Linked DNA regions of Homo sapiens: regions 1, 3, 4, 5 and 6 are each linked to region 2. Evidence: fine-mapped expression QTL. A gene starts in region 2. Each other region holds a variant in brackets. All regions are shown on one strand. Distances are from middle to middle.

Region 1 (4,091 bases), 70 kb before region 2:
GAGGTTGCAATGAGCCAAGACCACACAACTGCACTCCAGCCTGGGTGAAAAAGCAAGACTCCACCTCAAAAAAAAAAACAACAACAACAACAACAACAACAAAAAACTGGACTCCCTACAGCCAGTGTAGTATGCACCACTCACTTGCCACACTGTATGCTGAGTGACCCTTCCACAGCTTAAATCTGCACATAACTTCAGCCTAGAACCATATAATGTCCCTTTATTTCTTCAGTACAATGATTAATACCATATTCTCTGTACCCTTCTTCCCTCTATGCTCATCATTCTAACAGCTCTTGCCAATACTCAAATCCAGGAGCAGCAAACTACTTCACATGTCACAAACTTTTCACAGGTTCACACCAGTGGATTCCCCAGTGAACCAGCTGTCTTAACTCAGGCTTCCATAACAAAATACCACAGACTGGGTGGCTTAAACACGAGGAATTTCTTTCTCACAGTTTGAGAGGCTGAGAAGTCCAAGATCAAACTGCCAGCGGATTCACCTCCTTGGTGAGGGCTCTCTCCCTGGCTTGCAGACTGCTACATTCTCCTTCTGTCCTCGCATGGTGGAGAGAAAGAGAGCACTTTCGTCTTTCTTCTGTTTCTTATAATGACACTGATCTCATCATGGAGATCCCATGGTCATGACCTCATCTAAACCTGATTACCTCCCAAAGGCCCTACCTCCAAAATACCTTCACATTGGGGGTTAAGGCTTCAATATATAATATGAAGGGAACACAAACATCCATTCCATTACACTAGCACCTGCATTTGCAATCCAGCCTCTGGGCCAGGCTTAGCAGTGTAGAGCCCAAGGCTTCAATTGACAGGATTTTTATGCTCTCATGCTCTGGCTCCTTGGCTCCAGAAGCTTCTAGAACCAGTAGGGTGATACATCCTTTAGCAACTATATTGTAAAACACATGGTGGGTAAAAGAGTGCCCTATTAAGTATTTTGGTTATGCCCCCATTAGTGTGCTTGGCTCAATATATTAATAGTAAGTAGTGGTTCGCATCCACCCTCAGTACCACCCTCTGCAGTCATCCTGTCAGTTTCCATTCCATTCTCCTATCCCTGGCTTGCTGGTTCAATACTCTTAAGTGATTTACTGCTGGTGCTCTTCTTTTTCCCTCAGAGATACCTTGTGATTTCTTTGATTCTCTCCATCTCTACAGGTTAATAAGTCTAATATTTAAAAACTCTGTAGAGGGATGTTGGGAAGCTGTGGGGAGAGCCCTTGGGCTTTTCGCCTGGGTAAAGTGCAGATTCCTGAGAATTCTGGGCCTTGGCTTCCAGCTGCACTAGTGCCGGCCACTCAGCTGTTCTCAGCAGCGTCACCTGGCGCAATGGTGCTGAAGCGCACTGCCGAGAGGCCAGAAGGCAAAGCGAGAGTCGGTGGCTATGGCCTGGAACCCATTTAGGCAAAACAGAGGGCGCGCGGGGACAAAGCAATAGAGAAGGGTGGGCAATACAGGATCTGTACACCATACATTAGCAATTGTATTTATTAAATTGTTGATTACCTAAGCCTCCGGAGAGTAGTTTGGACGCTTACCGGTTTTCTGAGGATTATTTGGGGAAGGGGTATGCATGCAAATGTGTGTACATAATTCGTGTGATTTCGGAATATTGACTCCATGAGTTCCAGATGCAGATTTGGAACGTTTTTAAAAAACATTTTGTTTTTGTTGTCTCGCAAATCAGCCAGATCTGCAACTGTATCAGAGTAAAGCGAAGCCAAGCTGGACCCTTAGGAAATGCGCTAACATGTCATCCACTTTCGGTGTCTGCCTGTGAAAATTCAGGCGATAAAGAGAATGAAGAGAACCTTAAGGAATTGCTGGAACCAAAGTTAATATTAAGCAGGCCTGCTGTGACGTCCTCTTCCTGGCAGACCAGTGGAAATTGTAGCCTGGTCGACAATCTGTATAGATTGATGAGGTCTAAAATGTAGTCACAGGTTCAACTACTTTTCTGTTTTCCAACCTCGAGTAAACTCACTAAATTTAAGGGCTAACAAAAACAAAAACAAAAAAAAAAAAAAACCTATGTTTCCGCCCGGTTTCGAACCGGGGACCTTTCGCGTGTGAGGCGAACGTGATAACCACTACACTACGGAAACCACAAGCAGTACCTGC[A/G]CGGCAAAATATAACCATGAAAATCTTAGATCGGCCGTTTCTATTATAGTTTCCAAATCCGAGATCGCACCACTGCACTCCAGCCTAGACGACAGAGCGAGAGTCTCAAAAAAAAGTTGGGAGAAGAAGGTGCCATTTTCCCTAGTTGCTTTTCTTACTGTGGTGGTGACCGCATTGCCTTCACACCTGAAGTCCAAGTGCTTCCACCCTGGGGAATATGCAGACAGCTGGGTCACTGGACGCCAGGCCGCAGAGCCGGCCTCGTTCTGCTTTTGGCTCTAAATGCAGTCGGGGGACGCGACTGGACCTCACCAGAGACTGGTGGGCTGTTACCCTTACCAGCGACTGGAGGGCCAAGCTCCCAAAGAGGCCTACTTCATGATCGCCTTAAATCAGGAAATTTCATGAAATCCCACCCCTCTACCGCCCCATTCCCATATTGTATCTCCTCCCCTGCCCACTCTGAGAGGATTCGCCCCCTTTCTGTCTCGTCTGGACCCTTTGGAGTCCCACATAGACAAGACAAAAGGGGCATTGCCTTTTCCTACAGGAGCGGGAAGAGCCGTCACAGCGGAGGAAACAGAGACTCACAGCGCGCATCCCCACATACTGCGCCCTGCCGAGTTCCAGCAAACCCAACAAAGCACTCTGAAGCTTCTCTGGAAAAGGAAGAAGTGTGAGGTTTCTGATACGGCAAGAGGAGCCAAAGAGAGGGGACCCAGGCCTTCCCCTAGCTCGAGAGAACAAACCCAGAAGAAGGGCAGATCCAAAGGAAAAGCGCAAAGGCGGCCCAACCCCACGACCTGAGCGAGCCAAGGGTCGCGGGTTAAATTGCGTTTATCAGAACAGTTGTTTGCTCACTGTCCCAAAGCCCTCCTAGGGACGAAGAAAACACTGGCATGGCACCAATCGCAGAAGGGGGCAGCATTGACACCCAGGAACAGGAGTGGAAAAGCAGGAAAAGCAGGGATCATCTCTCTCCTACCCCGTATATGGCTGCAGACATAGCAGTGGTTCTTTTCTCCAGGACCCAGTGAGTGTGCACCAGGAGAGAACATTATGCACGTTATTCATGGTGGCACCACCCAGGCTGAAAGTGAGCCTGTGCTGCTTGGGCTTTCAGGAAGGACGGGCCCAACTCTCCCTCCCTATACAGAGCTGCAGTGCCCTGGCAATGGAGGACAGACCATGGAGTTGCCTGCCCTGGACTCGGGGAAGAGGCTCTGCCCTAAACCCCATTTTAGTGGTAGCTGTCAGAGTGGCATATCCACAGACTTCAGCTGCACCACAGCCAGGAACCAAAGGACAAAGTCTTTATAAAATGAAGGTTGTGAGCTCTGTGACAGGGCATGATAGGGAAGCGGATCACATTCTTGCCTACTCAGGAGGAGGAGCTAGTGCACCTCTGCCCCTTCCCCTGAGACCTCAGCACACCCCGACATGATCTCTTTCCCACCATCCTGTCAGGGCAGGTTTTTCCACTGGACACCAGCCTACGTAACAGCCCTGACTCTTAAGCACCATCTACTGGACTGCATCCTAAACTGGACCACTGAATTCAAAAACCCTGCTACCAAAGGGCTTAGTGCTAGTCCATGAGATAAGTTTCCTGAGAATTCCGTACCCTCAGCCCCCAACAAGGGTTACTGTGTTAGCTTTTACTTCCAATACATCACCACAACAAGCAGCATCTGAGAAAGCTACTGCTCAGAAGCTATCCACAACCAAGAAACCCATACAAAGCTAGGGCTCCCTGAAAGCACCCAGAAATGAAGCCAAACAATCATACACAACATACACCACAGTCATACCATCAAGGGAAAAAAAGAATAAAAAAATTAAAAATCCTCATCCAAACAATACCAAATTCAAAACTAAGAAGCAACAGCTTCCTCGGATGAGAAAGAATCAGTGCAATAACTCCAGTGTACCCAGAGTATTTA
Region 2 (4,085 bases):
CAAGGCATGGGGTGGGCACTGTTATACTCCATCAGTGAGTACGTAAAGGAAATCAAACTGTCTGATTTTGAATCCTGCTTCTATTTTTTACAACCTTGGACAAATTACTGATTTCCTCTTTCACTAGGTTTATCATTTGTAAAATGGAGATACTAGTGTCTACTCATGGATTATTGTGAGGCTTAAATAAGAAAACATGTATCAAGCATATTTGTCTGGCATGTAATAAGCACTCTAAAATTTATGCAGTGATGAGGATAATGATCATAGACAATCTGATAGCATCTTATCCAAAGGAAAAAATGCGCATTTCCTTTGAGTAAGCACTACTGATTCTAGGAATGTGTCCTAAGGAAAAAATAAGTCAAATGTTTAAAGGTAGTCACAAGACTATTTTGGTAGTAAGCAGTCTTTTTTACTGGTCACACAGTAAAAAATTAGAAATAACCTACATGTTCATGAAGAGAAGTTGGTGAAATAAATTATGGTACATGCATACAGTAGAAAACTTTGGAGACAAAATAGTAAAATAGTTACAGATATAGGCTTTGAATATAAATTTTAACAAGCTGAGGCTTCTCTCGTCTCTTCAGAACACCCTGAGTTCTTCCCGGCCTTTCTTCCTTGCTTTTCATTTGTGTCAGTCAGCTCTTGCTCGTATAGCAATCCTCAAATCTCAGTAGCATATAAAGGTAAGCATTTAGTTCTCACTTACAAGTTTGCAGGGCAGGTGAGGCAGCTCTGCCTCAAGCCACAATGTCTAGGACAGCTCTGTTTCGCACTGTGGCTGACTAGCTAAAAAATGTTCTTGTCTCAGCAATCACAGGAGAACAAGAGGGTGAGAGATAATGTGTGAAGCTTCCTAAGTGCTAAGTTTGAAATTAGCACCATGTCATTTCCATTCACATTTCGCTGGCCAATGAAAGTCTCATGATGAGCCACAGTCAAGAGTCAGAGACATACCCTCATGAGGCTGTGGAGAGAGTGTAGATTCAGGGAGCGGTGAGAAACTGGGGCCAGTACACCAACTTACAGCATGATTTGTCATCATTTTTCATTCTCTGCTAGTAAGATTGCCAAAGTCTCTCTGCACTCATTGAATTCATTTAGCTCTCTTTAGCTCTCTTTTTTTAGCTCTCATTTAGTTTCCATTTAGCTCTCTTTCTCTCTTACCACAATACCTAAAAATCTTTTTATGGGGTTACAACTCTGTCTCAGGAGCCACCTCAGTTTGGTGGCACAGAGCTCCCCACTTGTACTCTGAAACTCTTTTCTTGAAGATATTGCTATCCATGTGCATGAGTTATTTTTCTTCTCCATAGCATCCACATTAAACAATTAATTACCTTGGATTTAGCCAAAATAAACACTCCAAATTCATGATGTCTTTCAGGAAGAGAGTTTGTTTTCTTTTTTAACCAAAATGGGAGATTGATCCTGTCTGTGTCCCCTAGAGGAGCAGAGGCTGGTTTGTATTAGGGCAGCTCTTGTAGATGAGTAACTTTTCCCATGGCCTCATAGAGGCTGATATAGAAACTTCTGGATTCAAATGATTGTTTGGAGGCATTAGCCAGGCATTGAACCAATTATAAAGAGTGAGGTTTTGCCATATTCTAACCGTAAGAAACAGAAACGGTAGAGGGTAAAAATAGAATAGAATGTCAATACAACTTTAGCCTTTTCCCTGGATTCTGAGAGTTCATAACCTGAAAATCAGAGATTCAAACTGGGAGAGATGGGCTAACAGGTATGAGCATGGGAAAAGCATGTTTCAAGAATTTGAGATGTATTTCCCAGAAAAGCAACATGATGAAAATGGTCAGAAAAGGCAATTTCCTTCCTCTTTTCTAATTTGGCTCTGGAGCCACCAGCAGAACCTCTTCAATATCTTGCATGTTACAGATTTCACTGCTCCCACCAGCTTGGAGACAACATGTGGTTCTTGACAACTCTGCTCCTTTGGGGTAAGTTGGACTCAGAGGGGACAGTTAGAAGGGTACAGGCTGTGGCTGTTGTGAGTCAAGAGTTTTGTCTTCCTGTGGTAACTCTGGGTAGAACTCATGAGTATGAAGCAACTTGTATCTGTGCTTCCATGGTTTATTAGAGCTTATTTTATGAAAAGGATGGGAAGGGCAACCCTGAGGTAGCATTAAGCCTGGACGCACCGCAGTGAAGTTTCCTTGATAACCACCTGTAGCTTGTTCAGTTCTGTTAGTACTGGATTTTGAGAAAGAGAAATAGAAACTCAAGAGATCTGAGTTGATCCCTCAGAGTCTACATTAATTCTGTCTCCCCAATTCTCTCTTCCTCATTATTTTCCTTGGACCAACTGATATCTTTATTCTCTGATCTCTTGCAGTTCCAGTTGATGGGCAAGTGGGTGAGTGATCTCTAACTCAGCTTCTCCTTCTATGCCACTTTCCTACTTCCAAAGGATGGGTCCTATTAACCTGCAGAAGAGCATATAGGGAAAGCAGAGAAAGAAGAAAGATTTATAAATTATGTAAAATCTCCCATATTCAGAGCATGATTTTCATAAAAACTATGATTTGTAAGCTTTCTTTCTAAAGTTTTCTGAATGAGCTCTTTCCTCTGAGCGAAATGCCTGAATGTATATATAACAGCAGGAAAGGGCCAGAATTGCACAAACACTAAAGTAGTCTGCTGACACTGAAGTAGTCTGCTGGGTTTCCCAACATCCCCTAAACCAGTCCCCTTTACAAGAAAGCAGAGTGGGTTTTTTCTCCTCAGAAAGAGCCAGGCAAATACTGAAGGCTTCAAAGAGAGGAGTTTGAACCTCCGTTTCCAATGTACAAGCTGCTGAAGCCCTGCAATGTACTCTCAGAGACAGTATAGCTCAGAGGATAAGGAAAACAGCTCCGCTTGGCTTGCCCAAGTCTAAAACCCTGCTTCATTGCTCCCAACAGAAAAACCTACATCAGTAATTTAATCCTCAGGAGCCCCAGATTCCCAACACCCAGATGAGGATTTAATAACAATGAACAGAGGTCTCTGCAGCAGGAGGACACTCTTAAAGGCTGGCTTTTGTAGGTTTCCACTTGCCTATTTTTCAAATAAATCTAAATATGTATTTTTCCCTTGTGCTATCCACAAAAGCCTCACCAGTTGCTCAGAGCCCTCCCCTTTACTCCACTTGATCTTTTTCTTTTTCTTCTTGTAATCTCCAAGTAGACACCACAAAGGCAGTGATCACTTTGCAGCCTCCATGGGTCAGCGTGTTCCAAGAGGAAACCGTAACCTTGCACTGTGAGGTGCTCCATCTGCCTGGGAGCAGCTCTACACAGTGGTTTCTCAATGGCACAGCCACTCAGACCTCGACCCCCAGCTACAGAATCACCTCTGCCAGTGTCAATGACAGTGGTGAATACAGGTGCCAGAGAGGTCTCTCAGGGCGAAGTGACCCCATACAGCTGGAAATCCACAGAGGTAATTATGACTTGGACCAGGAGGGCCGGAAACCACAAGGTCTTCCTCTGCGTTCTCTCCTTTCTGGATGCCAGATGTGTGTGTGTCGATTTATCTGGGTGCAGGTCTCAGCACTATGTACCTACCAGGTGAAACTAAATCAGTATACTCAAAACATCACAGCAGGGTCCTTAAACTGTGTACCAACAGTACCTCAGCTAGGCCAGCTCTAAGTAGGATGTCTAGAGTAAGACTTAGGCCCTAAGATTGTATCATTATTCCAAATGTATGCCTGTACATAGTAAATAATAATAATTCAAACAAATGAGCAATAATGAACAATGAAATATCTTCCTCCCACCCAAAACCTAGATCTGCAGTCACCTTCCACAGAAACAAAACTGCTAATATATATATACATATTATGCATATATATGTATATATTAGCATTATTATATATAAACTATATATATATATATATATACACACATATATATAGTTTTAAAGCTGTGGGTGGTAGAACACTTTCTAAGTATTGTCCTATATCTTACTTTTATCACTTAAAATACCTTAAAGTTCTGTTTATATTAATAGAAATCCACTTTAAAATGTCTGCTGCACAGCTGTACCAGAATTAATTTAACCATTCTGCCTATTAG
Region 3 (4,091 bases), 25 kb before region 2:
CCCAAGAGGCGGAAGTTGCAGTGAGTCAAGACCAAGCCACTGCTGCACTGCCCAGTCTCAAAAAATAAAAATTAAAAAAAAATCAGGCCAACACCTGTTGACACACATTGCTAGGAATCCCTTTGGGAAAGCAAATGGGCTCACGGAACACACGGAGGCCATGGTGGGTGACAATGTTAACTAATTCTGTTCATGGTGTCCAGGGTACAGGCCTGAGGGTCCACTCGCCACCTCTGCCCAAAGCCACGTCTCCACTGCTCCCCTCATCTCCGCACGGATTCCTCCCCACGTGCCTCCCCTTTTCTTGGACTGCCGACACCTGACACCACCAAGGTGACTGCTCCTCCCCACAGCTTCTCTCCTTCAGGGGACTTCACTTCTTGTTCCTCGCTCCATAGTGAGGCGTGACCCAGCGGTCAGCCCAAGGTCTAGCATGCGAATCAGGGACGTGATGGTTCTTTGGGATTCTAGGGATCTACCTGGAGAATAGATGAAAGTAACAAAAGTTTTACATACCAATATTCAAAACTGCATCAAACTACCAGAAACACTTGCCACTTTCAAAGATAGACTATGCTAAGTAGCTCCAGGTGTGTGCCACCATGCCTGGCAAATTTTTGTATTTTTAGTAGAGACTGGGTTTCACCATGTTGGCCAGGCTAGTCTCAAACTCCTGACCTCAGGTGATCCACCTGCCTTGACCTGCCAAAGTGCTGGGATTACAGGAATGGCTCTTGACTCTAACTGCAAGGTCCCTAGATCATTAGATCATTTCCTGAATATCTTATGCTTCAGGCATTGGCCATCACTTGGGTTACCATTGTCATAAATCAAAAGCCTCCACAACCAAGGCCCTTAAACATGGGATAGCCTGTGCAGGGCAGAAGTATAAAGAATATAGAGAAGTGAAGCACAAAACTTGTTGCATTGGCCAGGAATTAAACCAGGGTCTCCTATGCAGGCGGTGAGAATTCTACCACTGGACCACAAATCCGGCTCTTATGTGTGGTCCTGGAGAAACAATTGAAATACAATACTGAAAAAGACAGAAATTGTTCCAAAAGAAGCTTTTTGCAGTATTGACTAAAAGCTAACAGTAGACATCCAAAACCAAGGTTTTTACAGAATACTTTTACTAGACAAAACTATAAATATTAAAATAGCTTATTTGATCAAACTTTAATTCCGAAAAAGGCTCCTTCCAACTGCGTAACAGACTCCTATAGAAAAACATCAGAAATTCATCCAGGTTCCTTGTTTCTGATCCTAAATCTTCAATTTAGGACCTCAACCTCAAACTGTTGCTTTAGTGGCTCTGGGAAGGAAGCACTAACTGGCAGCATAGGTAAGTAAAGTTTTAATCTAGGGAAGAAATAAGAAGCAGAATCAGAATTAGAATTAGAAGAAAGAGGGAATATGCTATACCAGAATATCATAGGCAAAAAAAGAAGACAAAGAAAGAGGAAATGAAAGGACAGAAGGTAATGCTAATGGAGTTAGTTATTTGTGGCCGTTTTTTGTAAAAGAGTAATGATCAGTCTTGTAATCATTATAATACTATTATTTGCTTTCTAAAATGTCTAAAATATTTGAAGGAATTTATGATATAAAAAGATGAATAATGCTTGCAGTCAGTGTTTCATTGTTTGGGAGAACCCAGTTTCCTCAGTTAATACACTTTCGTGTAATAGCTGTTTAAGGAGTAACATGGTTTAAAGACATATTAATGGCTGAAATATTAACATATTGGTCTTTTGATGAAGTTCAAATAGAGAGATTTCTTTCCCCAATTTTCCCTGGAAAGATTAAACTGAAGAGAAAAATCTGGAAAGTTTGCCCCACATGTTGGGTCTGGGAGTCATTATGATTTTTTCAAAGACAGGAGTTGTGTATGACATGGAATCATGCTTCTTCTCTAGTTGAGAAGCCAAGCTAGGTCCAGGCTGAGTCATAAACTTGAACCCAACAAGGAAATCACCCTTCACACTG[G/A]CCTTGCAGAGCTTTGGCTCAATCTGTTCTCTGCCCAACACCCAAGACACATACTAGTTCTGGCCAACAAACCTTCACATATTGTCTGTGTCAACCAGAGCTACATTTATTCCGAAATCTCTTTCTAAAATACAAACCTGTACTTTCTACTCTCAACCCCAAAATTTACAAGAGGCCTCATATGCATCTCAGAGTCACAGATGCTAAAACTCAACACACCAGTGAGTTCCCTGTCAGCATCATATACTACCCTCTACCTCAATGATCAGCCCCAAGCCAGCATCTCCCAAAGAGTAGTGTGTTGCTGTGGGTGTTTCAACAGATCACTAAAACCTGCTTCTACCCCTGCCTAGACACTTATCCTCACTGCTATGCATCCTGCTCCTCAAATCAGATCTTGATATCTTCTTTAAACACTCCCAATCTCCCAACACGACAATTCATTTCCAAAGAATTATAGTATTTAAATTTATTGGACTCTATACAGACTCATTCCCACTTTGTTACTACGCTGGTCCATCCATCACCTCCATTAACATAAGTAGATCAAAAACTGGCCTCTCTACAGCCAGTCTTGTCTATTCCAACCCATTTGCCACACTGTATCCTGAGTGACCTTTCCACAGTGTAAATCTGGACATACCTGTAGCCTTAAATCATATCTACCAACATAGTAGCCAAGCAACAGCAATCTCTTTTCCTTTGGTCATTAGAGTCCTAGAGACCAAGAGGATGTTGGGAAAAGAATTACCATGGATCAGCTCTCAGAGGCAGTAGGTTCTGGACTCATGCTGGCTTTGATACGTGTGCATTGGAAAAGCTCAAGTACCTGGCAATACTTGGAGATTAGGAAGAAAGGATGAAAATAAACCACTGCACTAAATAACATGACAATAATCACTTATACAAAAATTTTAAAGATAAGGAATATTTAAAGATTTATTAGTTTATTATAGCTTTATAGTTGGAGAGTGAAGAAGAAAATACCAAAGCTTTTTGTCTTAACAAAATGGTGCAGACAGATTAACATATATTGTCACCTATGATAACCAGTCAGCATAAAAAGTATTTAGAAAGGAATGGTTATATTCTCTAAGAGATATATTCTGATGTCATGTTTTTTGCTTTAGAGTCTATTAATATAGCCACCTTTTTGTTAATGTTTTCAGTCAAGCTCCTTTTCTCGCCTTTCATTTCCAACCTTTCTCTCACTTTCTGGTTTAGATACAACTCCTAAATATATCATATAGTTAATTTAAAAATCCAGTGTAGCAGTATTTCGGGGGTTTGTTTTACTGGATAATTTGGTCCACTTACATTTAATGTAATTGTTGATATATATTAATTTTAAATCTACCATCTTTATTTTTTTCTGTTTGTTCTGCTTGTTCTGTTTCTATGTCTTTTCTTGTCTGTTTTGGATTGGTTATTTTTAACTATTATAACATTATATTTTTTTACTTTTTTATATGCTTTGCTTCACTTTCTTCCTTATTGTATTTCCTTTAATTGTATTTAAGTTGCTTCTATTCTTTTGTGGTTACTTTAAAAATTACAATCTTAATCCTTAATTTTTTTTTTTTTTTTTTTTTTTTGAGACAGAGTCTCACTCTGTCTCCAGGCTGGAGTACTGTGCCACGATCTTGGCTCACAGCAACCTCTGCCTCTCGGGTTCAAGTGATTCTCCTGCCTCAGCCTCCCGAGTAGCTGGGACTACAGGTGCAGCTAATTTTTGTATTTTTTTAGTAGAGACAGGGCTTCACTGTGTTGGCCAGGATGGTCTCCATCTCTTGACCTCATGATCCGCCCACCTTGGCCTCCCAAAGTATTGGGATTACAGGCGTGAGCCACCGTGCCCAGCTAATCCTTAATTTATTAAACATAGTAATAATTGATACCGTTATCCTCTTCCTGCACAATATATGGATGTTGGAATACTTTTATTCCATTTAGTCTCATTCTATATATATGCTGTTATCATTTATTAGGTCTAAGTATTAATAGTTTTAAACCCCAGAAGACTAGACATATATTTTATGTAGTTAATGTTAATTTAGATTTATCAACATATGTGCTGCTATCTTACTCTTTATTTCTGCTAT
Region 4 (4,091 bases), 110 kb before region 2:
TGACTTGAGGGGTGCGTTTGTGGTGAATTAGCTTTGGGAAAAGGGAATCCAGAGGCCAACTTTGTAAAAATCCAGATAGGTAAATGGAGAGAAATCTTTGCCTTGGAAGTCCAATTGAGAAAGATAGTGATTTACTTCGGACTGTGAAAAGAGAGACTAAAATCTTTACTTTCTCATGGGAAAGAAGCCTATGGTGAAAGAGAAACAAAGAAAATGGTGGGAAATAGGATAGGTCTACTCAGTAGCTTTAAACCATTCTGTCATATTATAAAGCCTGGTAAGGTTTTAACTAACACAAGTGCCTGGACTCTACACATAGAGATTCTGATTTAAATGCTTCCAGGTGGGTGGAAGACACTAGTAGTCTTAAAAAGCTCCCAAGTAATTTTAACATGTAGCTAAAGATGAAAAGGACAATCTATCTACTAGAATGTCAAGTCGCCAGCATAGGAGTGTCCCAAATGTGCAGCTACCTCATAGAAAAGGCTTAACCCCATCCATTGATGGAATTTGCCTTCCTCTCTCCATGGTCTTGTTTGCATAGCATGGAAAAAAAGAGAAGAGAAAAAGAGGTAGATGGATAGATTGAACCTATAATTTGCCTATGTGGAGCAGTTTCTCAAACTTTTCTGACCACAAGATACAGTGAGAAATACACAATTCTTTGTGATCAGTTTTTAAAAAATCTTTTATTATGTGTAATCCACCCTTCCTGGTATTTAAATAAAGCCTGTAGTAGTAAGCAGTCCACTATATTGATTTCACAACCCATAAGTTGTTCAGAATTGCAATTAGAAAATTTTTAATTTTGGCCAGGCGTGGTGGCTCGCACCTGTAATCCCAGCACCTTGGGAGGATCACCTGAGGTCGGGAGTTTGAGACCAGCCTGACCAACATGGAGGAACCCTGTCTCTACTAAAAATTAAAAAAAAAATTTTTTTTTAATTAGCTGGGTGTGGTGGTACCTGCCTGTAATCACAGCTACTTGGGAGGCTGAGGCAGGAGAATTGCTTGAACCCTGGGGGTGGAGGTTGTGGTGAGCCAAGATTGTACCATTGCACTCCAGCCTGGGCAACAAGAGCAAAACTGTCTCAAAAAAAAAAAAAAGAAAGAAAGAAAGAAAAAAAAAGACAAAGAAAGAAAGAAAAAGACAAAGAAAGAAAGTAAGAAAGAAAGAAAATTTTTTTTCACTTTTGCTCAGCCTTTTTATCAAGGAAAATCCCAAAAGAACATTTACTGTAAAAGAACATTGACTATAAACATCTTTCTGTGAATCCTTATTTCTGTCCCAGCCACCATGACCCAATAATCTCTAAAACCTGTTAGTGTTCTCCAGATTGAAGCCTTCCGTCTAACTGCTCCTAAATCTGTGATGTAGTGGAAAAGGTTTGAGGCCTTGATTCTCATCCCAGGTTTTTCACCTACAGATCATATGGCCTTAGCCTCTTGACACCATTGTCTCCTTATGGCCAAAGATGGAACTGTACTTGGGTGGTATCTGAGCACCCTGTTGGCTTTGACATTCTAGGGCTCTTCCCTTGGCACCACTCTCTTATTTAAAAGGAATAGGATGTGGACTTACAAGGGTTATTTCTCTGCAAACTATCCTCTCTTTCTTATGACAAGCTATTTCTGAATGTGCACATTTGAGGCTAAGCAAATCCCTTCCTGGGAGGTGTGAAAGACCTTTATTTCTCTCCAGAGGAGTATTATGGAGGTGGTAGAGACCTAGCTAACTCATCTGCAGTGGCTTTGAGCAAGGCTTTTAGAGCCATAAGGTGGCTGGGGTCCTGTGTCCTACACCACAGGCCAGCTAGTTCATTTCAGGAGACTTTCTTTTCAATCTATTATTACTATCTTCTTCTAGACTGTAGTTCACTACCAGAGATTATCCACTTAGCTGCACTCAGTTTGCACCTGGCCTGTATCACCACTTAGCTCTCACTCTAGCCTCAGTTAGGTATCAGCAAGACCTCACCAAAGATTATTGTTTCGTTGTATGTGTGTGTGTGTTTTTGTTTGTTTCAAGTAGCAACTAATGTTGGAACTATG[G/A]AAAGTTCTTCTCTACTTTTAACAAAGCTTAGTCACAAACAGTTCCCCAGTTGATGAGAAAAACTAAAACAACAGAACAATTGAAAGTCCAAATCTGAAAGCTCCATCTCTGAGAAGCAAATTTTATAGCCACTCCAGATTTGTATTCCAAATGGATAGTTTGATTGTAGAAATCACATCCCTTCAGTCTGCAAATGTGATAACTGCCCAAGAGACAGTGATGCCTAGATCCATAAATAATCCCCTTTCCCCCAACCTATATATAACTGGAGTCAACAGCAGCTAGAGGAAAATGGCAAGGACTTGGAATCAAGATTAAGTTAGAATAACACTGCTGTAGACTGTTTATCAGCTCTTCAGCATATGTCCATTTTCCTTGAAGGATAAGCCTTTAGAAACCTCTGACAATAAAGTTTATTTTACACACATTCTCTTGCCTATGATTTTTTTGTACAAAGCACAATTACAAAACTTTCTTGCTCCAGCTAAAAGCAGGAAACTCAGTCACAAATGTGTTCACTACATGTATACCACAGAATGATAGCAGCCAGTCTGAATGCATCACTTGATTCCAAAATTAAATGTTAGCACTCAGTAGTGAAACTACATGTATCTCCAACTCTGGAAGCCCCAGGCAAGATACTCCTGTTTCCTGCAGGGAAACAGATCTATAAGCAGGGCAGCAGTCTCACACATGTACATTCCTGGGAAACCCAAGGAAACAATGGTAGTGACGCAGGGCAGGCGAACCTCAAAACTGGTTTGTAGCCTGAGAAATTTCTCCCAGACTGTAGTTTCCTTGGCTTTGCCAAGGAAAGAATTCAAGGTCAAGCCGCTGGTGAAAGAAAGCAACTTTTATTGAACTGGTGCTGCTACTTGCAGAGCAGGGCTAACCCATAGGCAGTGTGCCCAGAGTTGGTGCCTGTGGGCTGCTAGCTAGTTGTATTTAGACCCACTTTTAATTACATGCCAATTAAGAGGTAGGTTATTCAGAACTTTCTGGAAAAGGGGCAGGGAGTTTCTAGAACCGTATAAAGTAACTTCCAGGCCATTGCCAAGGTGTGTTGCCATGACATTTGTAAACTGGCCATGGTCCCAGTGGTAGTGTCTTTATGCTCATAAGTAGTGAGAGCAACTAGAGGTCACTTTCATCATCATCTGCTGGTTTCAGCAGGCTTCTCCACTGCACCCTGTTTTGACCAGATCCTGCTCTGTTCAATGGGGTTGTGACTGGAAAATAAGTCTTTCTGGTCTCCTACCTCATTTCCCCATCAGAGATTATATACTCCTCCTTAATCTTAAGGGGCTTGCAGAAGGGTGCAGGTTCATCTTCTGTAACTGCTTCCTGCTGATGTTATGGGCATAGACTCTGCCTAGCACTGGAGAAGTAAAATCTCTGGATACCTGTTCTAAAAGACCCAAAGGCAGGATGTCTTTATTTTCTGGGTCAGAAGAGGGGATGGGTTGAAAGCCTTGTGCCAGCATCATCTTTACATGGAATTATTGTAATCTAGAAGACACAAACTTTACAAGGAGGTTAAACAAGCAAGGACCAAAGATTAGTAATAACAAGATATCTGTTAAAGGTCCTAGGAAGGGTAAAAATCAAGTGTCTGCTGGTAGAGATTCCTTTATTGAATTCCATCAGCAGGGCAAAGCGGTAAGAGAGAAAATATTATAATTAGGAGTAAGAGAAAAACTTTCATGCTCATCCACAGCATCATGTTATTAATATTTATCTGTGCATTTGCAAAACAATAGCTTTAAGTCTTCTGGGAGTTTGCAAGTATAGGTCATGGTATCTTCCTCTGACATCTGTGAGGACTCATAAGAATCTTTGAGGCTGGGCACAGTGGCTCATGCCTGTAATCGCAGCACTTTGGGAGGCTGAGGCAGGCATTTCACAAGGTCAGGAGTTCAAGACCAGCTTGGCCAACATGGTGAAACCTCATCTTTACTAAAAATACACACACACAAAAAAAAAAATTAGCCAAGCCTGGTGGCACGTGCCTGTAATCCCAGCTACTCAGGAGGCTGAG
Region 5 (4,091 bases), 100 kb before region 2:
TTAGTTTATCAAACATCAATCTTGTTTAACTTTATATTTTGTTACCTATACTTTGGGGGATCAAGGGAAGAGATGGAACTCTTCCTCTGAAAATGCTTCTTGGTACTTAAAGTAGTAAAACTATAAAACAGTAAACATCCAGTATTGGGAGATGATATGATAGGGCATTATGAATTCCTATGGGTATCTAAATTATGTATGTCAGTTGGACATTGTAGAAGGTATGTAAATCATCATGGTTATGTATAACTTAACCTTGATTTATAAGGTCTTAATTCAGATTATGACTATTCGTTGACATCTCATGAGAAGCTTTAGAAAACTTTCTATTTTTAAACACCATTTATATGTGGACTTCTGTTGTCACTGACTTTGGGCTTTATATTTTCACAGAGTCTTTATGGAAAAAGTAGAATTTATTTTCCACTCTTGTAGCTATAGCTGCTGCACATTTTCACCCTGATTTATTTTTTTGTTTCTTACCTTTGATGTTTTCAAACCAAGGATTGTGATTTTAGGTTAGAATTACATATTAGAAGCATTAAGACTATGTCTTTGGATCAGAATGCTTTAGTGATTAACCTACTTTGAAGACATACTCTTAAGCAATCTGGATCTTAAATTTATGTGAATACATTTTTAGAAAATGATAAAGAAAAATGGAATTACTTCAAAGTGTTTCTTGAGTCATTGATTCTTTTAGCATCTCAAATGTTAATTAGAATAATTGGAATCACTTTTTAGACTTTTCAAGTTACCTTTCTTGGGAAGTTTGTGTAGTGTTAACAGTTTAGTTTAGCTCCTCTTATAGGGCAATGGTTTGCTAGTTTAAAACTGTAACCAAATGAACTGGTCAGACAACTCATATCTAAAACACTTAAAATGTTAGAACGTTTGGGAATGTTATAACCTAAGCGTTTTTGCTGATAACTTTTTGTTATTTATAGACATTTGTGTATTTAACATACTTACTTCTGGAAATATATGCCTTTCCTAAAACTTAACCACACATCCACTACCATGGCCTATGTATAGAATTGAATATTTTGGACCATGTTATCTGTGGCACAGTCAGTGCTGTGTTTGAGGTAAATGCAGTAACGGTTAGTTTTCTACTTTGCCTTATAAAAGGTAGAAACCATGTGTATGTTATGTTTGTCTATAAAAGAAAAATACTAATATTAAATTATTTCTTATGACTGTGAGTCACTCACTTATTTTTCCAATAATTGATATTGTACATTCTTAGTGCCATTAGGTATGTATGTATGTAACTTTTACAGTTTTTCAGCTGAAAGTTGTATTTTTTTTTAATCAGGGCTCTTTAATCTCATTTTAATTTCCTTTGTTTGAATGAACTGTAGTTATTTTCTGTATTCCTATATTAACCATCTAAACCAACTGTAATGACACGTACACTAATAAAGAATTGAACATTTGTATTTGTTGGCAGTGAGCCCAGTTGTTGGTGAATTTAAAGCTTAAAATATGGGAGTGATTTGCTGCTATATTTCTTTTGAGAGATAAAGGAGGAAGAAATGGAACCTAATGGTAATCATGAATTTTAGGGAAAGTACTGAAAAACCATGGGGTCCCCTCTGGTTTCTTGTGTTGAATGAGGCAAGAGTAATCATCTGATTCTGAGCTGAAGACCTCTCATACTCTCAAGGAGGGAGAGTGCATTTTTAGAGCTTTTAGCAAAAATGTGAAAAGTTCATGTTTGCACGTTGCTTTGTGAATTTGGCTTCCTTTTACTTATACATTAACTCATGTAATGTCTTAAATCTTACAAGTATTGATCCATTTCAACAAAAAGGTAAATTTAAAATGCAGACTTTGTTACTTGCCAAAGAAGATTCATGAAAAATTTATATCCAATTATTTTCCAAATAGTTAATTTAATTTGGCTTTTTACCACATTCCTTCCTTTCTTTCCCGACTTCTTTAATGTAATTTAAATCCTGGA[A/G]AACATTCTTTAGAAACCAAGAGGAAAAGAAGAACACATACCAAAAAAGACATATAACTTAAAATGGTACATTTCACATCTAAAATGGGTTTGAAGAAACGCAACTTTATATCATTAAAAAATAAGATCATCTGATTTCCTTTATTTCTTTTTTAAATTATGTAATCAGATGATTTTATATTTTTTGGGGGGGGCGGAATATTGGTTTCTTTTACTTGATGTTTTCAGTTTTCTCTGGCATTCAAGTTTCTTTTTTGTGTTCAGTGTTTCAAATACAATTTGTATTTAAGGATTTTAAAATACCAAACTGTAAATGAGTACAGTGGATCTTTTTCTGTTAGGATGTTAATATTATACAATGAAATCTATAAAGTGTTGTCAATTTGATCATTGACACATATGACATGTTTACAATTAAACTGTGGTGTTGATCAAGTTAAAAAAAAGGCGGAGGCCTTCCATAAGTCATTTCAAATGGACTAAGCTTTAAAGTTCTCTTTGGAGCCATCCTCATATGCAAAAGGGCTATGAGTAGGAGGAAAACTCAGGCCTCTGAGGTCTCCTGAAAGAGTTTTGCTAATGTCACAACTGGCTTTCTATGTTATCTGAAGATTGAGATCTCCATGAAGAGTGAAGATAGGTAATGCTTAAGGCTGAGGCATTACCTCACTGGGTCACCTTAGCTGGGAAGGGAGGTCAGTTATCCCCTTGCAAACATTTTGGTAATCCAAATCTTGGGATGATTTCTTTAAGTAAGAATTTAGACACTTCCAATACTTTTCTTGTCCTTGTGGGGAAAGCTTCTATCCACCTGGTGAAAGTGTTTATAAATACTAGCAAATATTGTAGTCCCCTGTAAGGTGGCATCTGGGTTAAATCTGTCTGCCAGTCTTCACTATGGTATGTTCCGTGGTGTTGTACAAGTTTAAGCAGGGAGTGGGGTATGGGGTGGCTTCCTGATTGGTAAATCTTTTTATAGATTAGAACAGTCCCTTCCCCAAGAATATTTAGGAAACTAATTTGAATGGAAAATCCTGTCCCAAATGTGAGGAATCATGAAAATGTTAAATTATTTCCCATTTGTCAGCCTCAGGAATAGAGTTTGTTCTTTTCTAGCAAGCGTCTAGAGGGGTCTTACTGGAAGCCTTTTACTCAGTCCCTTTAATTTCCTTGGGTGTATAGTACGGTTCCACTGACATGGATGACCTGGTAGTAGCGCAGCAGCCTGAAATACCAGGGTTTCCTTAGCTGTGGCCTTAGCTGCTCTTTCCAAAAGGGAATTTCCTCTAATAAGAACAGTGTCTCCCTTCTGGTGTCCCCTGCAGTGAATACTTGTTATTTCTTTGGGAATTGGATGGCATCTAAAAGTTCCAAGATCTGAGTAAAGTTGTATGGGGGATCCCTTGGCTCTTGATAGTCCCCTTTCCTTCCCTATGGTTGCATGAGCCTGAAGCACCCGGAAACCATACTTAGAGTCAGTAAACACATTGACTCTTGAGGGTTTTTTTTTTCTTTTTTGAAACAGAGTCTTGCTCTGTCGCCCAGGCTGGAGTGCAGTGGCATGATCTTGGCTCACTGCAAACTCTGCCTCTCAGTTTCAAGTGATTCTTGTGCCCCACCCTCCCGTGTAGCTGGGATTACAGGTGCCCACCACCATACCCGGATAATTTTTGTATTTTTAGTAGAGACAGGGTTTCGCCATGTTGGCCAGGCTGGTCTCGAACTCCCAACATCAGATGATCCACCCACCTCGGCCTGCCAAAGTGCTGGGATTACAGGCGTGAGCCATCCAACCCAGGCTTAAGTCTTTTCACAGTTGGAAGGTCCTGATTAGAGCAGCTAATTCTGCTTTTTGAGCAGAATTCTGAGAAGGTAAACCCTTGGCCTCAATGACTTCTTGTTAGCTAACCTTCCTTTCTTACTCCCTCATGAATAAAGCTATTTCCATCTCTAAACCACTCAACACTGGGGTTAGACAAGGGCTTGTCTTCAAGGTTGGACCTTCTAGAGTAGATCTCTTCCATGGTTTCCACCCAGGAGTCAATGAGTTGGGGATCTGTTTCTTGGGATGTGAGGTCCAGCAACAGAGTAGCAGGGTTTAAAAATCAGCATACTTTAAGGGTAA
Region 6 (4,091 bases), 160 kb before region 2:
GGAGTATACTTTCGGAGAAGCTCATGGTGGGGGAAATCTGGAATTTATCTAAATATTTCATTTCTTTGATAAATTACATTAAAAAATTAATGAGAGTATCTATTTGGTGAAATCATTTTCCTCCACGTGACCAAATGAGAAATTTAGTGAAAGATTTAAAATCATTTTTCAGACTTTTTCCACATTAGTCGGGAAGCAAACCCCTTTTTTAAGGCAATGTCAGTTATTAAGCTTTAGGGAACCACATGCCACTTTAGGGAACACATGATTGGAGAGATTGAAGAGTGAAGTTCCTGCTTTAAAGTGTACTCCTGTGGACACAGTAATACATATATTTAAAATGGTTCATGTTAAGAGTAGGTATATTTCTATCTAAATACTCTGTAGCTTTTGTGATTCAGGGAAACGAGTGGAGCCTCACAGGCACAAGAATCTAGTAAATTCTAGGTTTCTTGTGTGGAAATCAGTGGGCAAAATCTTAACTGAGTGAATTCTTGATTATTGGTATCACATTTGTTAGTCTGTATGTATCTGTGTCATCGATCTCCTTAAGAAGAGACTCGTAGATATTGACTGGGAGACCCAAGCTGAATGCTAAAATCTGCTCCATGGATATAAGCTGATGCAGTCATCATTTCACATTAAAATGTACCACAGCTATATATGCAGCAAAAAAAAAAAAAAAGTCCCTCCAGCTGAAAAGCAGTCATTACTTTATTATCACCACAGTATTTGAAATGATTTCTGTAGTTAACAGTCAGATTTTATTTTTAGTTAACTAAGACAAAGTGAATAATTCACTGTGAGCCAAATTCTTTCTTGATTCCTCTTTTTGGAGCAGTCCATCTTTATGGGAAAACCAGCCTAGAATGGTGATTTCAGTTTCAGGTGATTTCGATAGAATTGTATTTGGCTCAGAAATGATAAGACTGGGGCCAAGAAAAATTTTAAACTTTTTTTTTTGTAATCATATTACTAGTTTGATTTCATATGAACTTCCTTTGTTGACTTTCTTTGCCATTAATTTAAAAGTTCCAGTATCCTCAATATTTGATGTCTTATATGTACAGAATCCTTTCCAGCTGTAAGTCATCAGCAAGTAAAAAATTTAGTATGGCAATAGTTTTCATAAGAGGTTTTTTAAAACAGAAAAATGTTGACATTGCCAGCCTCTGGGTTGCATTTTGGGATATGCTACATTTCAAAGGTATCTTTTAAATCTGAAGGCAAAGACTTTTTCAACATCTGAATATTCTGATTTACAGAAATTAAAAAAAAAAAAACCCCGGAACATTACACGGGCATATAAATTTGAATCAGGAAAATATAAAATTAGCTGATTATTTTTATTCAGTAAAAGTGCCTTGGCACAGAACTAAAATTGATAACTTATGGTTTTAGCATGTAGATAAGTACATGAGAGTAAATCACATTTCTATATGAATAGAAATATCCACTTTATTCATGTATAGATTATAAAACTATACTAAACAAAAAGTAATCATTTACTATTACAAAAATTATTAAGAACCATTACAAAAATTCTCTGCCTACTAATTTTCAATCACCATAGAAATACAGTATTTAATAATGCTGCTGCTGTACTTACATAAAACATATTAAGAATAGATGTTATATTTCTGTGTTTGAATATTGAGCTTAAACATAAAACATATTTGAAATGTGTTTGTGTGTGTCTCTCACACACACACATAACATGTACATACCTGAAACTCATACTGCAATTGCAACACATCTTAAGTTTTTCCTTTTAAACATACCAAGATAACATTCTAAAATGAAGAATAATATCTATGTCTCTCTTCATACTACATACTATCTCTCTATGTATATACAATTGCTATAAACATATCTTTATATTTGATATATATAGGTACATATATATGGATAGATAAATATAGATATATGAGAGAGAAATGGAGATTAGAGATCTATGTTTGCCATAAATCATACTTGTTAACATAAACCATCTGATTAAACTGATATTTTGTGGCCCAAGACCTGAGACATGCAAAACTATTCTCAGCAGATAGAATTTTCTAAAAGCTGAGAGCTCATTCTCCAGGAGCTGGCCAAGGACCAGTACTAAAGGCAGACCTTTCTTGGAAATGTACACAGTCTGGGCAAACAAGACCTGCTGAGTTAACCCTTTCCTATACATATGCAGACGGTATTCAGCACAGGGCCTGACAGAAGGCAGTGTTTGTTATTATTATTCATAGCATTAGCCCATTTCTTGTTGTGAGCAACATGAACAAGGAGACTAAGGGGAGAAAAATGCCCTTTTTTAGGGTGACCACCCTAACTGATTTGAAAGTCTACAATTTTTTCAGTTTAAAATGGTATTTATTTGTAACATGTA[C/T]TATTATTGAATAACAATTTCTAATTAAAAAACTACGCTAGTTTTCTGCCTATGGAGAAGCCACCTTTTTATTCTTTTACTTTCTTAATAAGCTTGCTTTCACTTAAAAAAAAAATCTACCCTACATATACACAAAAGTTAAAAAGCAGCAATATTGTACATTGGTCAGTATAAATGCATGCAGTTTTCTTTTCTTCAGTGTACAAAGTCCAAGTCTAAACCTTTATAATTTTTAGAGTCTAGCGATTCTCCAGACTCCATACTTTTCATTGTTATCAGATGCCAGCGTTAATTGCTTTTCCTTTCTTCTGTTTTGGGTTCCTGATCTTCATCTGTGTCTTTAAAACAGATTATTTTCTTTAGATTTGAAAGGTTGGGTTTTTGTCTTCATTTCTTATTTGTTTAGCCTTGTATTTCCCTTTCTTTAATTGAATTGTGTTATTGAAAATTAAATAATTTCTCTGTGAAGTCAAAAATCCTGTTTCAGGGTGGGCTCTAGAGCCTTCCTCTTGGGCCATATCCTTAGAAAGCCTGTGTGTATTCTGATACATTTGGCAATTTCTACTGGCTTTTCTTGTATTGTCTGACCCCTTTTTATTTCAGCGGTGCATCCTGGTCTTACCCAACAGGCAAGTGGTGACTCCAGTGCAGGTGACGCAGAGGTAACACTAGAATGAAGTGAAATATTCTGTTGAGGGCTAAGTTCATGTTTTTGCTGACAGTGGTGGATAAATGTCATGGCTTCCCCCTGCATAGTGCTTAGGACATTTCTTTTGATATGTGTTTTAGAGAAAACATAAAACTTGTAATCAGGAAAATGCAATAACGGAAGAAATGCTTACTTGAGTAACTAATGTGAGTTAGGCAAAGAAGATACAAATACTTCCCATTTCCTACTTCTAAATTACAGTCAAATTGTCCTAAGCAAATCTCTCATTGTCTCCATGTAAAAGATATAGAGAAGCCGTTAGAAAAAGGTGGCTGGAACAACTTTATACATACAGCCTGAATGAACTGCCTCATCATTTATATGTTTGAGGAAAGTGTCTGTTTGATAATTTAAATTAAGTTTAAACTGTCATAAACGGAGAGCTGTACAGATTCTGTGGGAGAGGATACTGGGGTACCAGATACTCATTACTAGGCTCTCCACTCTGCCTTCTTCAATACTCTGGATCAGTGCCCTTTATTCATTTTTTTCACAACTTCCTCCCCTTTGCTCACATTCTTTACAAGCTTCCAGGATTTTTTTATTTTATTTTATTTCTTTCCACAATGACTCTCATGGCTGTTGCTATAGTTGCTATAAAAGGCAAGGTGGGGAACAGACAGGTGAATGAGCACAGAGGTCATTTGTAAACCGTTTGTGGTTAGTGCTCCTCTGTTTACTGTCTGTCTGTCTCTCTCAGTGTCTCTGGGTATGTGTCTGTTTACAACATAAAATATATGCACACAAATCTCCAATTTTTCTAGAGTAACTATTAACACAGTTAAAATCTGGAAGAACTCTATCTTTTAAAGGAAATACCAATTAGCAAATAAAACAGTTGATTCCCCCCAACTCTCATTCCCCAGAGCTTGCTTAAGTGTATGGTTTGCACACATTCCATAAATAAAAACATTGCTGGCTCATAACTATGCTTCACTTTCATAAGCCTTCCAAATGTTAGTAACTTAGCCTTCTCCTTTTGAAGGGTTAGTCTGTAAG

Which allele goes with the higher level. Positions count from the first base shown, and alleles are read on the strand shown. Sizes are in standard deviations (SD) of each study's normalised expression. Not every link is listed here.
As copies of A replace G in region 5, the expression in subcutaneous fat of the gene that starts at base 1,884 in region 2 goes up (moderate effect, 0.42 SD a copy in GTEx).

The links. PIP is the estimated chance that this variant, and not a neighbour inherited with it, causes the effect.
Region 1: its variant is fine-mapped to the expression of FCGR1A in whole blood (INTERVAL, PIP above 0.99).
Region 3: its variant is fine-mapped to the expression of FCGR1A in whole blood (TOPMed, PIP above 0.99).
Region 4: its variant is fine-mapped to the expression of FCGR1A in whole blood (TOPMed, PIP above 0.99).
Region 5: its variant is fine-mapped to the expression of FCGR1A in subcutaneous fat (GTEx, PIP 0.95).
Region 6: its variant is fine-mapped to the expression of FCGR1A in whole blood (TOPMed, PIP above 0.99).

What each region holds. Positions count from the first base shown.
Region 1 is chr1:149,710,493-149,714,583 of GRCh38, forward strand. It overlaps TRV-CAC1-7 (tRNA-Val (anticodon CAC) 1-7), which reads right to left and starts at 2,132; the gene lies at 2,060-2,132. The variant A/G (reference allele first, on the strand shown) is at 2,149.
Region 2 is chr1:149,780,811-149,784,895 of GRCh38, forward strand. FCGR1A (Fc gamma receptor Ia) reads left to right here and starts at 1,884. Exons shown (of 6, transcript NM_000566.4): 1 at 1,884-1,964; 2 at 2,360-2,380; 3 at 3,193-3,447. The coding sequence starts at 1,934. LOC124904411 reads right to left here. Exons shown (of 2, transcript XM_047438183.1): 2 at 2,080-2,450. It also overlaps a transcript of H2BC18 not described here.
Region 3 is chr1:149,755,798-149,759,888 of GRCh38, forward strand. The region is part of intron 2 of LOC105371406 (a long non-coding RNA gene); the gene reads left to right. It also overlaps the pseudogene TRR-CCT8-1. Among named protein-coding and RNA genes, the nearest start is that of TRN-GTT8-1, 18 kb to the left of the region's middle. The variant G/A (reference allele first, on the strand shown) is at 1,990.
Region 4 is chr1:149,670,547-149,674,637 of GRCh38, forward strand. All of the region lies in intron 8 of LINC00869 (long intergenic non-protein coding RNA 869), which reads left to right. Among named protein-coding and RNA genes, the nearest start is that of RNVU1-30, 36 kb to the left of the region's middle. The variant G/A (reference allele first, on the strand shown) is at 2,053.
Region 5 is chr1:149,678,077-149,682,167 of GRCh38, forward strand. LINC00869 (long intergenic non-protein coding RNA 869) reads left to right here. Exons shown (of 9, transcript NR_111950.1): 9 at 1-1,447. It also overlaps the pseudogene FAM91A2P. Among named protein-coding and RNA genes, the nearest start is that of TRV-CAC1-7, 33 kb to the right of the region's middle. The variant A/G (reference allele first, on the strand shown) is at 1,967.
Region 6 is chr1:149,617,004-149,621,094 of GRCh38, forward strand. The region is part of intron 1 of LINC00869 (long intergenic non-protein coding RNA 869); the gene reads left to right. Among named protein-coding and RNA genes, the nearest start is that of LINC00869, 12 kb to the left of the region's middle. The variant C/T (reference allele first, on the strand shown) is at 2,384.